3 linked regions of the Homo sapiens genome follow. The protein of the gene in region 2 purifies or fractionates together with the protein of the main gene of each other region. This does not show direct contact. Each region holds a gene or a part of one and is shown on either strand. Other genes may lie near its edges.

Evidence for each region.
Region 1: the proteins of COL22A1 (region 2) and LAIR2 purify together in Homo sapiens (co-immunoprecipitation; one large-scale study listed by IntAct). This does not show direct contact.
Region 3: the proteins of COL22A1 (region 2) and P4HA2 purify together in Homo sapiens (co-immunoprecipitation; one large-scale study listed by IntAct). This does not show direct contact.

What each region holds. Positions count from the first base shown.
Region 1 is NC_000019.10:54,501,409-54,505,668, forward strand, and holds the start of LAIR2 (leukocyte-associated immunoglobulin-like receptor 2 isoform a precursor), read left to right. Parts: upstream 1-1,422; 5' UTR 1,423-1,510; coding exon 1,511-1,544; intron 1,545-2,291; coding exon 2,292-2,327; intron 2,328-4,260.
Region 2 is NC_000008.11:138,876,025-138,879,675, reverse strand, and holds part of COL22A1 (collagen alpha-1(XXII) chain precursor), read left to right. Parts: intron 1-1,359; coding exon 1,360-1,926; intron 1,927-3,651. UniProt on the Homo sapiens protein: Acts as a cell adhesion ligand for skin epithelial cells and fibroblasts.
Region 3 is NC_000005.10:132,189,852-132,193,502, reverse strand, and holds the end of P4HA2 (prolyl 4-hydroxylase subunit alpha-2 isoform 2 precursor), read left to right. Parts: intron 1-422; coding exon 423-493; 3' UTR 494-3,356; downstream 3,357-3,651. UniProt on the Homo sapiens protein: Catalyzes the post-translational formation of 4-hydroxyproline in -Xaa-Pro-Gly- sequences in collagens and other proteins.

The sequences.
Region 1 (4,260 bases), on a different chromosome or scaffold from region 2:
CTAAAATACAAAAATTAGCCGGGCATGGTGGCGTGCGCCTGTAGTCCCGGCTACTCAGCAGGCTGAGGCAAGAGAATTGCTTGAGCCTGGGAGGCGGAGGTTGCAGTGAGCCAAGATTGCACCACTGCACTCCAGCCTGGGCAACAGAGTACGACTCCATCTCCACACACACATACACACACACACACACACACACAAATTGTTAATTGTATATGTATAATTATAATAGTTTATATATATTAACAATTATATATAAACTTGCATATATATAGTATTTGCTGTATTATTATATATAAACAATTATATATGTAATGACTGTATAAAATAGATAAACAATTTTAACTAATAATATTATATTAATTATATTATTATTAGATGTAATAATTATAATTATTTATATATAATATTTATTATTATGTATCATTGTTAGAACACTTAACATGAGCTCTGTCCTCTTAACAAATTTCAAGTGAACAAGACGTTATTGCTGACGATGGGTCGTATGTGGTGCAGCAGATCTCTAGGCCTGTTTGTTAATAACTCCCCATTTCCCCCTCCTCCCAGCCCCCGTAACCACCATTCCCTGCTGTGATGTTGTGACTCTGGTGACTTTGCAGATCTCCTGTAAGTGACATCATGCAGTACTTGGTCTCTGCATCTGCGTCGCTTGGCGTGATGTCCTCAGGTTTCGTCTGTGTTGTCGCCCATGGCAGAATTTTCTTCCTTGTTTAAGGCTGAATAGTATTCCCCTGTGTGTGCACCACATTTTCTATATCAATTCTTCTATCAATGGACATTTAGATGATTTTCACGTCTTAGCTATTGCGAATAGTGCTGCAGTGATCAGGGGAGTTCAGACGGCTCTTTGCATACTGAATTTGTTTCTTTTAAATATAGACCCAGAAGTGGCATTGTTGGACCATACGGTAGCTCTATGTTTAGTTTTTTGAGGAACCTCCCCACTGTTCTCTATAGTGAGTGCACAATTTTTCAGCCTCCCAAAGTGCTGGGATCACAGGCGTGAGCCACCGCGCCCGGCGCACTGTAGGATCTTTTTTAATGCATTATATACCTTGCTGAGATTTTAGCAGAGATCACAATATTAAAAACTTGGGGAAGGATTTCTATGACTCTTATTTTAAATACGAGGACATGTCGACTTCTAGTTTTGTAACATCTTGCCCAAGAGCGGTGGTCGTTAACGTGTGGAGTTGGGATGACATCCAAGTCAGTTGGTTGCACGACCTTTATTCTGTCTTGTCCCATAGATTTAGAAAGAGGCTGACACATCGGGTAACTAGTTTAAGGTCATCTGATCATGCGGGTAAGCGACATTTTTCAGAAACCAAGGCCCTCCCTCTCATCTCACTAGTGGGAAGGGTGGAAAGAACAGAACAGAAAGCTCTCCCTCTTGTGTGAGGCAGTTGCTGTGGAAGCCCCACGGGCAGGAGGCCCCCGGCCAGCACATCCTGTCTGCTTGTGTCTGCTGCAGAGTTCTGGGACCGGGGCCATGTCTCCACACCTCACTGCTCTCCTGGGCCTAGGTGAGTCCTGGAGGGAGCGGGAAGGACTGGAAAGGGGGTCGGGAGGTCTGGAAAGTTCCCTGCTCAAGCCTGACTCTAGTCCAGAAGATTCTGGGGAGGAAAGTGTCCTCCTCCCCCCAAGACTGCCCTACTGCTCTCCCTGGGGCCTAAGTCTGATCAGAGACAACCTTGTCCTAAAAACAGGGGCCCGGGTGTGGGGATGAGGTCAGCTTTAAGAAGGGCTGGGGGGCCAGGCGCGGTGCTCACACCTGTAATCCTAGCACTTTGGGAGGCTGAGGCAGGTGGATCACCTGAGGTCAGGAGTTTGAGACCAGCCTGGCCAACGTGGTGAAACTCCATCTCTACTAATACAAAAATTAGCCGGGCATGGTGGCGGGCACCTGTAATCCCAGCTACTCGGGAGGCTGAGGCAGGAGAATTGCTTGAACCCGGGAGGTGGAGGTTGCAGTGAGCTAAGATCGCGCCACTGCACTCTAGCGTGGGCGACAAGAACAAAACTCCGTCTCCAACAACACCAAAAAGAAGGGCTGGGGGAGCAGGAGCCTTTTTGGAAGAGGAGACTTTGGGATTTATCTTGAAACCATTTTGCAGCAAGAAGGATTACATGGAGACAGTGATGTCGAGGAGGGTTGGCTTGGTCGTTATGAAATGCTGAATGCCCCCCAGCTCCGTCAAGCCCCCTTTTGACAGCAGCCCTGTAAGGAGACTGGGCAGTGGGCATTTTTCTCACTGGGGCTTCTCTTCCAGTGCTCTGCCTGGCCCAGACCATCCACACGCAGGAGGGTAAGTCATGCCTTCGTCCCGTCTTCCCAGTCCCCTCTGTCACCCCAAAGGCAGTGCTGGGTGGGAGTGATGTTGATTCTTAGAGGGCCTGGAGAGATCCCTTTAAATATACCCTAGATTGCAAACTATTCCAAATGTAAAATGCATAACCCTCACCCCTTTCTCTCCTTCATTCTCCACCTGTCATGTTTTGCTTTTCTTATTTTCAAAAATCCTATATTTTATTTTATTTTTATTTTTGAGATGGAGTCTCACTCCATCACCCAGGCTAGAATGCAGTGGCATAATCTCGGCTCACTGCAACCTCTGCTCCCAGTTTCAAGCGATTCTCCTGCCTCGGCCTCCTGAGTAGCTGGGATTACAGGCACCCACCACCACCCCTGGCTAATTTTTTTTTTTTTTGTATTTTTAGAAGAGATGGGGTTTCACCATATTGGCCAGGCTGGTCTCGAACTCCTTACCTTATGATCCGCCCGCCTCAGCCTCCCACAGTGCTGGGATTACAGGCATGAGCCACTGTGCCCAGCCAAAAATCTTATTTTTAATCGACAAATAATTGTATATGTTTGTGGGGCACGATGTGATGTTACAACGTATGTAAACATTGTGGAAAGATTAAATAAGGCTAAATAACATATCAATCACATCACATACTTATTGTGATGAGAACATTTAAAACCTACTTTTAGCAATTTTGAAATATATAATAAGTTATTATTAACTATAGTCAGCCTGCTATGCAATAGATCTCAAAAACTTACTCCTCCTGTTTAACCGAAACTTTGTACCATTTGATCAGTGTCTCTCCCAAGCCCCCCATTTCCCGACTTTAATAGCATCATTCTAATCTCTAACTCTGTGAGATGACCTTTTTTGTTTGTTTGTTTGTTTTGGGATGGAGTCTCACTCTGTCACCCAGGCTGGAGTGCAATGGCACAATCTCGGTTCACCGCAAACTCAACTTCTCAAGTTCAAGCGATTCTCCTGCCTCAGCCTCTCGAGTAGCTGGGATTACAGGTGCATGCCACCACGCCCAGCTAATTTTTGTGTTTTTAGTAGAGATGGGGTTTCACCATGTTGGCCAGGCTGGTCTTGAACTCCTGACCTCAGGTGATCCACCCACCTCGGCCACACAAAGTGCTGGGATTACAGGTATGAGCCACTGCACCCGGCCGAGATGAACTTTTTTAGATTCCACATGCGGTATTTGTCTTTCTGTACCCAGCTTATTTCACTTAGCATAATGTCCTCTGGTTCATCCATGCTGTTGTGAATGACAGAATGTCCTTCCTTTTTTAGGGCTGAATAATATTCCATTGCATATATACACCACATTCTCCTCATCCATTCATTTGGTGGTGGTTATATAACTCAGGTTATTTCCAGGTCTTGGCAGCTGTGAGTAGCGCTGCGGTCACCCTGGGAGTGCAGGCATCACCTCCACACACCGATTTCCACAATGAGAATTCAAACCCAACACAACCAAGGCTGAACCCGGCACTTTTCCCCAGACGAGCCCACACTTCACTCGGCAGCTTCTTGGCGGGGAACGTGACAGTCACAAAGGGCAGACTCTGAACACTCATCCTCTTCTCCATCCTCCTGGATGCACCATGTCACCCAGTCCTGGTGATTTCACTCTAAATTTTTCTCATCTTTCCCTCTCTCTTCATCGACTTTTCCTGCATCACCCCCAGGTGACAGCCCTTCTCCCCTCCGTGGCTCCCCGAGGCCGGCCTCAGCCTGTCCATGCCACTGCTGCCTGCTCCCTTCCTGACCCCAGGGACTGGCGATTTGCAAAAGCACAACCATGACCATTGTACTTTCCACAGTTTTTAAATTGCATTCAAAAATTTTCATTTAATATCTCATCGTAAGATGAAGTTTTTTTCTTAGAGCCCTTCCCCTGTTTATCTTCAGATAGAATCAACCC
Region 2 (3,651 bases):
TCTGTCACCCAGGCTGGAGGGCAGTGATGTGATATTGGCTCACTGCAACCTCCACCTCCCGGCTCAAAGGATTCTTGTGCCTCAGCCTCCTGAGTAGCTGGGATTACAGTCATAAGCCACCATGCCTGGCTAATTTTTGTATTTTTAGTACAGACGGGGTTTTGCCATATTGGCCAGACTGGTCTCAAACTCCTGTCCTCAAGTGATCTGCCCGCCTTGACCTCCCAAATTGCTAGAATTACAGGCGTGAACCACTGCACCTGGCCTTAAGACCAGGGCTTCTTGATAGTTCCTTGTATATTTGTGCAGCATTCTAGAGATTGGAAAACACTTCCTCTTGTATTATCTGATTTTAAAGGGCTGAGTAGTTAAATATCTAACAGGAGAGCGCTTGCTAAATCAATTATGTTCATCTGTGCAGAGGACTCTTTGCAGCCATGGAAACCAGCATGATCAAACCAGAAATGGATTTCTAGCTTATAACTAAATGCAGGGAGAACAGCGTATGTATCAGTGTGTCTGGTACAGTCCCATTCCTATCAATAATTATATGGAAATAAAAAATAATTGAGTATATATGAGTATATATACCATGCTTTAACAGTGGTTATCTCTGTGTGGGAATATGGGCATTTAAAACATCTAAACACCTGTTTTGTTTTGTTTTTGAGACAGAGTCTCGCTCTGTCGCCCAGGCTGGAGTGCAGTGGTGCAATCTCGGCTCACCACAAGCTCCGCCTCCCGGGTTCACGCCATTCTCCTGCCTCAGCCTCCCGAGTAGCTGGGACTATAGGCGCCCACCACCTCTGCTGGCTAATTTTTTGTATTTTTTAGTAGAGATGGGGTTTCACTGCGTTAGCCAGGATGGTCTCGATCTCCTGACCTCGTGATCCACCCGCCTTGGCCTCCCAAAGTGCTGGGATTACAGGCGTGAACCACCGCGCCCAGCCTAAAACATCTAAACATCTTTTGATTGCATTTTCTGACTTCTTGGAAATGGGCATACATTATTTGGGGTAGGTTGAAAAATAATGAAAAATGGAGTCACCTTTTAAACAAAATAAAAGTGAAGAGATTGAGGCATAGTGCTGTGCGGTGGGTGTTAGTCATTTTAATGTGATGCTACCTACTGTCAGTTGAGCCTCACAGTAGTCTTGGGGAAAACTCATCATTATTGCCATGTGAAGGTGTGGAAACTGAGGCTCAGGCCTTTCAGGCAGCCCAGGGCCCTTGGGTCATGAGAGACAGGGCAGGTAGGTATTTGAGCAGGTGTGTGTGACCCCAGTGACCTGTATACCCCAGGACAGTGTCCTTTCCATGCCCATTTGCCCTACGCCACCCCTTCTCTCACCCCTGCAGGTTGCAAAAGTGTCCACTACGATCTGGTCTTCCTCCTGGACACCTCCTCCAGCGTGGGCAAGGAGGACTTTGAGAAGGTCCGGCAGTGGGTGGCCAACCTGGTGGACACCTTCGAGGTGGGCCCCGACCGCACCCGTGTGGGGGTCGTGCGCTACAGCGACCGGCCCACCACGGCCTTCGAGTTGGGACTCTTTGGCTCGCAGGAGGAGGTCAAGGCGGCTGCCCGGCGTCTCGCCTACCACGGGGGCAACACCAACACGGGAGACGCGCTCCGCTACATCACGGCCCGCAGCTTCTCCCCACACGCCGGCGGCCGCCCCAGGGACCGCGCCTACAAGCAGGTGGCCATCCTGCTCACCGACGGCCGCAGCCAGGACCTGGTGCTGGACGCCGCGGCGGCAGCCCACCGCGCTGGCATCCGCATCTTTGCCGTGGGCGTGGGCGAGGCACTCAAGGAGGAGCTGGAGGAGATCGCCTCAGAGCCCAAGTCCGCCCACGTCTTCCACGTGTCCGACTTCAATGCCATCGACAAGATCCGGGGCAAGCTGCGGCGCCGTCTTTGTGAAAGTGAGTGCGCCCGGGCCCCATGCGGCCCCTCCCAAGAGTGACGCCCCCTGCTGAGCCCACGGGAGGGGTCCTCGGGCAGATAGGGATCCTACGGCCGGCTCCAGGAAGGCGGGGGAAGTAGCAGGTGCAGAGGCTGAGGGGACCCACATTCTTGGGTTTGGCCACACAGGGAACCTAGTAGCATGGGCACCCCCTGGACATTCCTGTTGTCAGAAGGATATCTTCTCCCATCCAGAGGCAGAGGTCGCGGGCAGAGGCAAGAAGGGGTTTGGGATGAAAGAGGGATGGGTTCTAACCACCCTGCCACCTGGGAGATACTTGGTGTCTCATCTTTACCTCTGATGTGGGAACATCCTCTACTTACTGCCCAGAGCTGTGAAAGCTAGAAACTGTGCATGCAAAGTCTGGCCTGAAGCATTGGGTATAGCAGGGTCTCCGAAGGGGCAGTGATGAGGGATCACGCAAGAAGCATTCAGGCTCCCTCGGCTCTTCCCAGCAGCCCAGAGTCAGTCATTTAGACACAGTCAGGAGGTGCTTATCCCAGAGGCCAAGTGCTGTTGACCTGGTGCCCTCTGAGATAACCCAAGGCCTCTAGCTTATTTGTCTGGAATCTGTTGATTGTGGCTGGGGGTGGGGGAGGGGAGGCAGAGGGCTGATGGCCCCCAGGGCTCTGACCTGGAAGCCTGACCTCCAGGATTTAGTGGGGGTCATTCTGAGGACAGCGCCCTCCCCAGGACAGGAAGGATGAAGTGGGTTTCTCATGTTCCAGACTGTCTCCAGCTTCTGCCTCTGCCTATTGCATTGGGGTGACATTTGTCCTTCTCCAGTCACAGTGGGTGCTGAGTAATCTTCTCCTCCAGGCCCGGGAGGGGTTGGGCTTTGAAGCCGGTCAGGCTGAGTGTGGAGCCTCAGCCTCTGTCTTGCTGATTACTGCAGGGGGCTGAACAACCCCTGGCTGGGAAGCCATAGGTTACACCTTGGCCAGGGGCAGGGAAAGCTTTGGGGGCTGGGGCAGCATGGAAGGTGCTCGTGATGAGAGCAGCTGGGTGTGAGTCAGAAGGGGAGGCAGGGGCCTGATCCTGGGGATGTGCCTGGCTTGCAGCCCAGTGAGAAAACAGCTAAACCATTTCTGAAACTGGGGTGGCTCTAGGCTGCTTTACCACAGTATGACCCTTTTCTCTGTGTTGGCTCTTTTAATCTCCACTTATTTATTCAACAGATACTTATCAGGGCTCTACTTTTTTGTATGGCCTTGTGCTGATTTCTGGGGCTACAGAAAAAGACAAGACACAGCAACCATTCTCAGGGTGCTCATAGTCTAGAAGGCAGGAAAGCCACATAAAAGGGAATGTGATACCGGGCAGGTAAACTTTAGCAGCGTCTCATGTGCCAGGTCCATGTGTGGTCGTGGTATGTGTGGGGATACTGAGAATGATGGAGGGCTCCCTGGAGGAGGTGGTGCTTAGGTTGTTTAGAGGATGGGCATGAACTGCATGGGATTGAGAAGGATGCGATGGAGTGGGATTAAAGGATGCCATGACATGGTCAATGAACCATGATGGGCCCGTGCAGCTGGGGAAAGGGAGGAGGTTAGGGCTGCTGGGCATTGCCAGATTGTCAGGGTCCCCATAAAGGGGGGCCTTGTGTGCTAAGGTGAGGACATGCTGGAGGGTTTATGCGGGGGTATGACATGGTCAGATCTCTGTGGGGAATGGAATGCCGCTG
Region 3 (3,651 bases), on a different chromosome or scaffold from region 2:
GAGAGAACCATCTGGGTATGCCCATCTTCTTCCCAGGATAACTTCTATGTAGCTTTATATTCTAGCCCTAGGATTTCCTCTTCCCTCTAAGAGCAAGAAACATGTGTGCAGGTTGCCATGGGAATAGAGCCAAAGGGCATCAAAGGTCATGGGCATGAAAGGGCATGATTAGATGCCCTTGGGTGCTATTCCCATGGCAACCTGCACACATGTATCTTGTCCCACTGGCAGAATTTCATACAATTATCTGTTTACATGTGTCTTCCTTACCAATTCTTCAGCAAATTGAGGCCTGAGATCATGTCTTGTCTTATTTGTGTCTGATTCCAGGGCACAGTGCAGGGGGTCATCATGAAGGAGTCATTCATTCAGGCTACTAAACTGACCAATAGGATTGTAACATGCTTGCTTTCTTTTCACAGTCTCCAATAAGTGGTTCCATGAACGAGGACAGGAGTTCTTGAGACCTTGTGGATCAACAGAAGTTGACTGACATCCTTTTCTGTCCTTCCCCTTCCTGGTCCTTCAGCCCATGTCAACGTGACAGACACCTTTGTATGTTCCTTTGTATGTTCCTATCAGGCTGATTTTTGGAGAAATGAATGTTTGTCTGGAGCAGAGGGAGACCATACTAGGGCGACTCCTGTGTGACTGAAGTCCCAGCCCTTCCATTCAGCCTGTGCCATCCCTGGCCCCAAGGCTAGGATCAAAGTGGCTGCAGCAGAGTTAGCTGTCTAGCGCCTAGCAAGGTGCCTTTGTACCTCAGGTGTTTTAGGTGTGAGATGTTTCAGTGAACCAAAGTTCTGATACCTTGTTTACATGTTTGTTTTTATGGCATTTCTATCTATTGTGGCTTTACCAAAAAATAAAATGTCCCTACCAGAAGCCTTAAAGAGCCTTACTTGGAGTATTTTTAAGACTGGAAGCTTTTACCAGGTTCATCATTTCCTATGCATCACCTTCATGCAGGCAGAGTCTGGATAATGAATGCTTTAGCAGCAAAAAAGCATCTTGGGTCTTGGATTTCAGACCTGGTTTCAACACTTGTGTTCCCTCTAAGTGTCAGTGTCCTTTTCTGGAAAGTAGGGTAAATAGTTTCTCTTTGTCTCCCAGAGAACATAGCACATGTGTTCATGATTGTAATGCTGTTATAATGTGTACTTCATTTTTAAATTTTGAGATAAGAATTGTTCATGATACACAGATGTATACTTAAAAAAATATGAAGGTGAGCAGGAGCACCTGTGTCAACACCAAGTTAGAAAAGAGAACGTTTTCAAGTCAGTACCTCAGGAGCCCCTTGGGAACCCCTCCTAGATCACATCTCCTTCACTGCCCCCAGCACTTTGGAGATAAATCATTGTCTCATGATGTGTGGTACTCATTCCTTTGCTTGTCTTTATAGTTTTACCATCTATGATTAGATCCCTAAATAAGTAGTTATTCTGTTTTCCCTGATTTTGAACTTTTACTAATAGAATGAGAGTAAATATTTTTGGGTATGTGGCTTCTTTTGTTCAACATTGTTTTAAGATTCATCCGTGTTGCTTGTGTAGCTGTAATTTGTTTTAATCTTTATAGTACATTCAGTTTTGTTAATGCTTATTGTAGGACTGTACCATAATACAGGCAGCATGCTGCTGATAAACACTGGAATTGATTTCAGTCTTTGTATATTGTGAATAATGCTGTGATAAACATTTTTATACATGATTCCTGGTGCACATATAAACACATATTTCTGTAGGATATATATCTAGGAGTGGAAATGTGGAGTCTTAATGGTGTTCCAACTTTACTAAATAATGTATTCCAAGGTGGTTATACACATTCTCACCAGGAGTAAATGAGAGTTATTACCCCAATCTTTTCCAGTATTTAGTATTTTCATACTTTTGAATTTTAGCTAGCTTGGTACATGTTACGGACTAAATGTTTGTGTCCCCCCACCAGATTCATATGTTGAAATCTTTTTTTTTTTTTTTTTTTTTGAGACGGAGTCTCGCTCTGTCGCCCAGGCTGGAGTGCAGTGGCGGGATCTCGGCTCACTGCAAGCTCCGCCTCCCGGGTTCACGCCATTCTCCTGCCTCAGCCTCCCAAGTAGCTGGGACTACAGGCGCCCGCCACTACGCCCGGCTAATTTTTTGTATTTTTAGTAGAGACGGGGTTTCACCGTTTTAGCCGGGATGGTCTCGATCTCCTGACCTCGTGATCCGCCCGCCTCGGCCTCCCAAAGTGCTGGGATTACAGGCGTGAGCCACCGCGCCCGGCCCATATGTTGAAATCTTAACCCCCAATGTGATGATATTAGGATGCGGAGCCCTTGGGAGGTCGTAAGCATGGAGCCCACGTGAGTGGGATTAGTGCCCTTATGAAGAGATCCCAGCCCTCTTTCTGCCATGCGAACACACAGCAAGAAGATGCCTGTCTATGAACCAGGGGGCCCTTACCAGAAACAAACCTACTAGCATCTTGATCTCGGACTTTCCAGTTCCCATAACCATGAGAAATAAATGTTTTTAATTCAATGTATGGTATTTTATTATAGCAGCTCTACCTAAGACAGTACATGTATAGTGTCTATTTGAACATTACTGATAATGTTGAACAACTTTTCATGTTTATTAGTTATTAGGTTTCTTCAAGTGTTCTTATTCATACAAATTTTAAAATATGTACACAAGTTCTTTGTTATATATTTTGCAAATATCTTCTGTGGCTTGTCTTTTCACTATTTTAGTTCTGTCTTTTGATAAACAGGAGCTTTTAATTTTTATGTCAAATCTATCAAGCTTTTTCTTTTTGATTTATGTTTTTTATGTCTTATTTGAGAAATCCTTCTATACCCCAAGATCATGAGGATGTTTCCTGTGTTCTCTTCTGAAAGCTATATAGTCTTTGTCATTTAGGTTTATCTTTATACGTGGTATGAAGTGTAAAGTTCTACTTTTAATTTTTTGCATATTTTATTAGGATAGGATGGGCTTTTTCTGTAGTAATAATCCTTAAATCTCAGGGGCTTAATATATAAAATTGTCTCATGCAAAAAACCACTGGGTCTAGGGCAATTGCTATCTACTGCCGTCTAATCTCCCTCTAGTGGCTTCCATTGGTAGACCCTAACAGGAAGCCAGCTGATAAGGGAATCTGGGAAATGTAGTTTACAGAGTGGCAGCTACAGTAGAACAGTAGAGACTACAAGGATGAGCTTGCAGCTGAGAATAGAAACGTGACTGGCACACTAGGTGGTTTGTTTGTAGGTTTTTTCTTTTCCTGTTTGAGACTTTTTTGGATTCTTGAATTTGTACAATGGTATCCTTAATCAATTGTGGAAAATTAAATGATTTTTTCTTTCAGCATTGTCTGTTTCTTCTGTAACTGATTAAATGTAAGTTGGATCATATCATGATATTATCTCTTAATCTGTCTTTCATATTTTTATATATATGCTATATTTGGGGAGAACTTTATAGCTGTTTTGTACAAAGTTCACTAATTCTGTCTTCTATCAAGTGCATACAGGAGTCTGTTTAAGGACTTTAAAGATGTAATTCTTTGTTTTCTGGCTTATACCATTTCTGTTGAAAAGTCGCTATCTGGTCCTTTGTTGTTCCTTTGAAGGTGATTTTGCCTTCACCTGGCTGCTTTAAA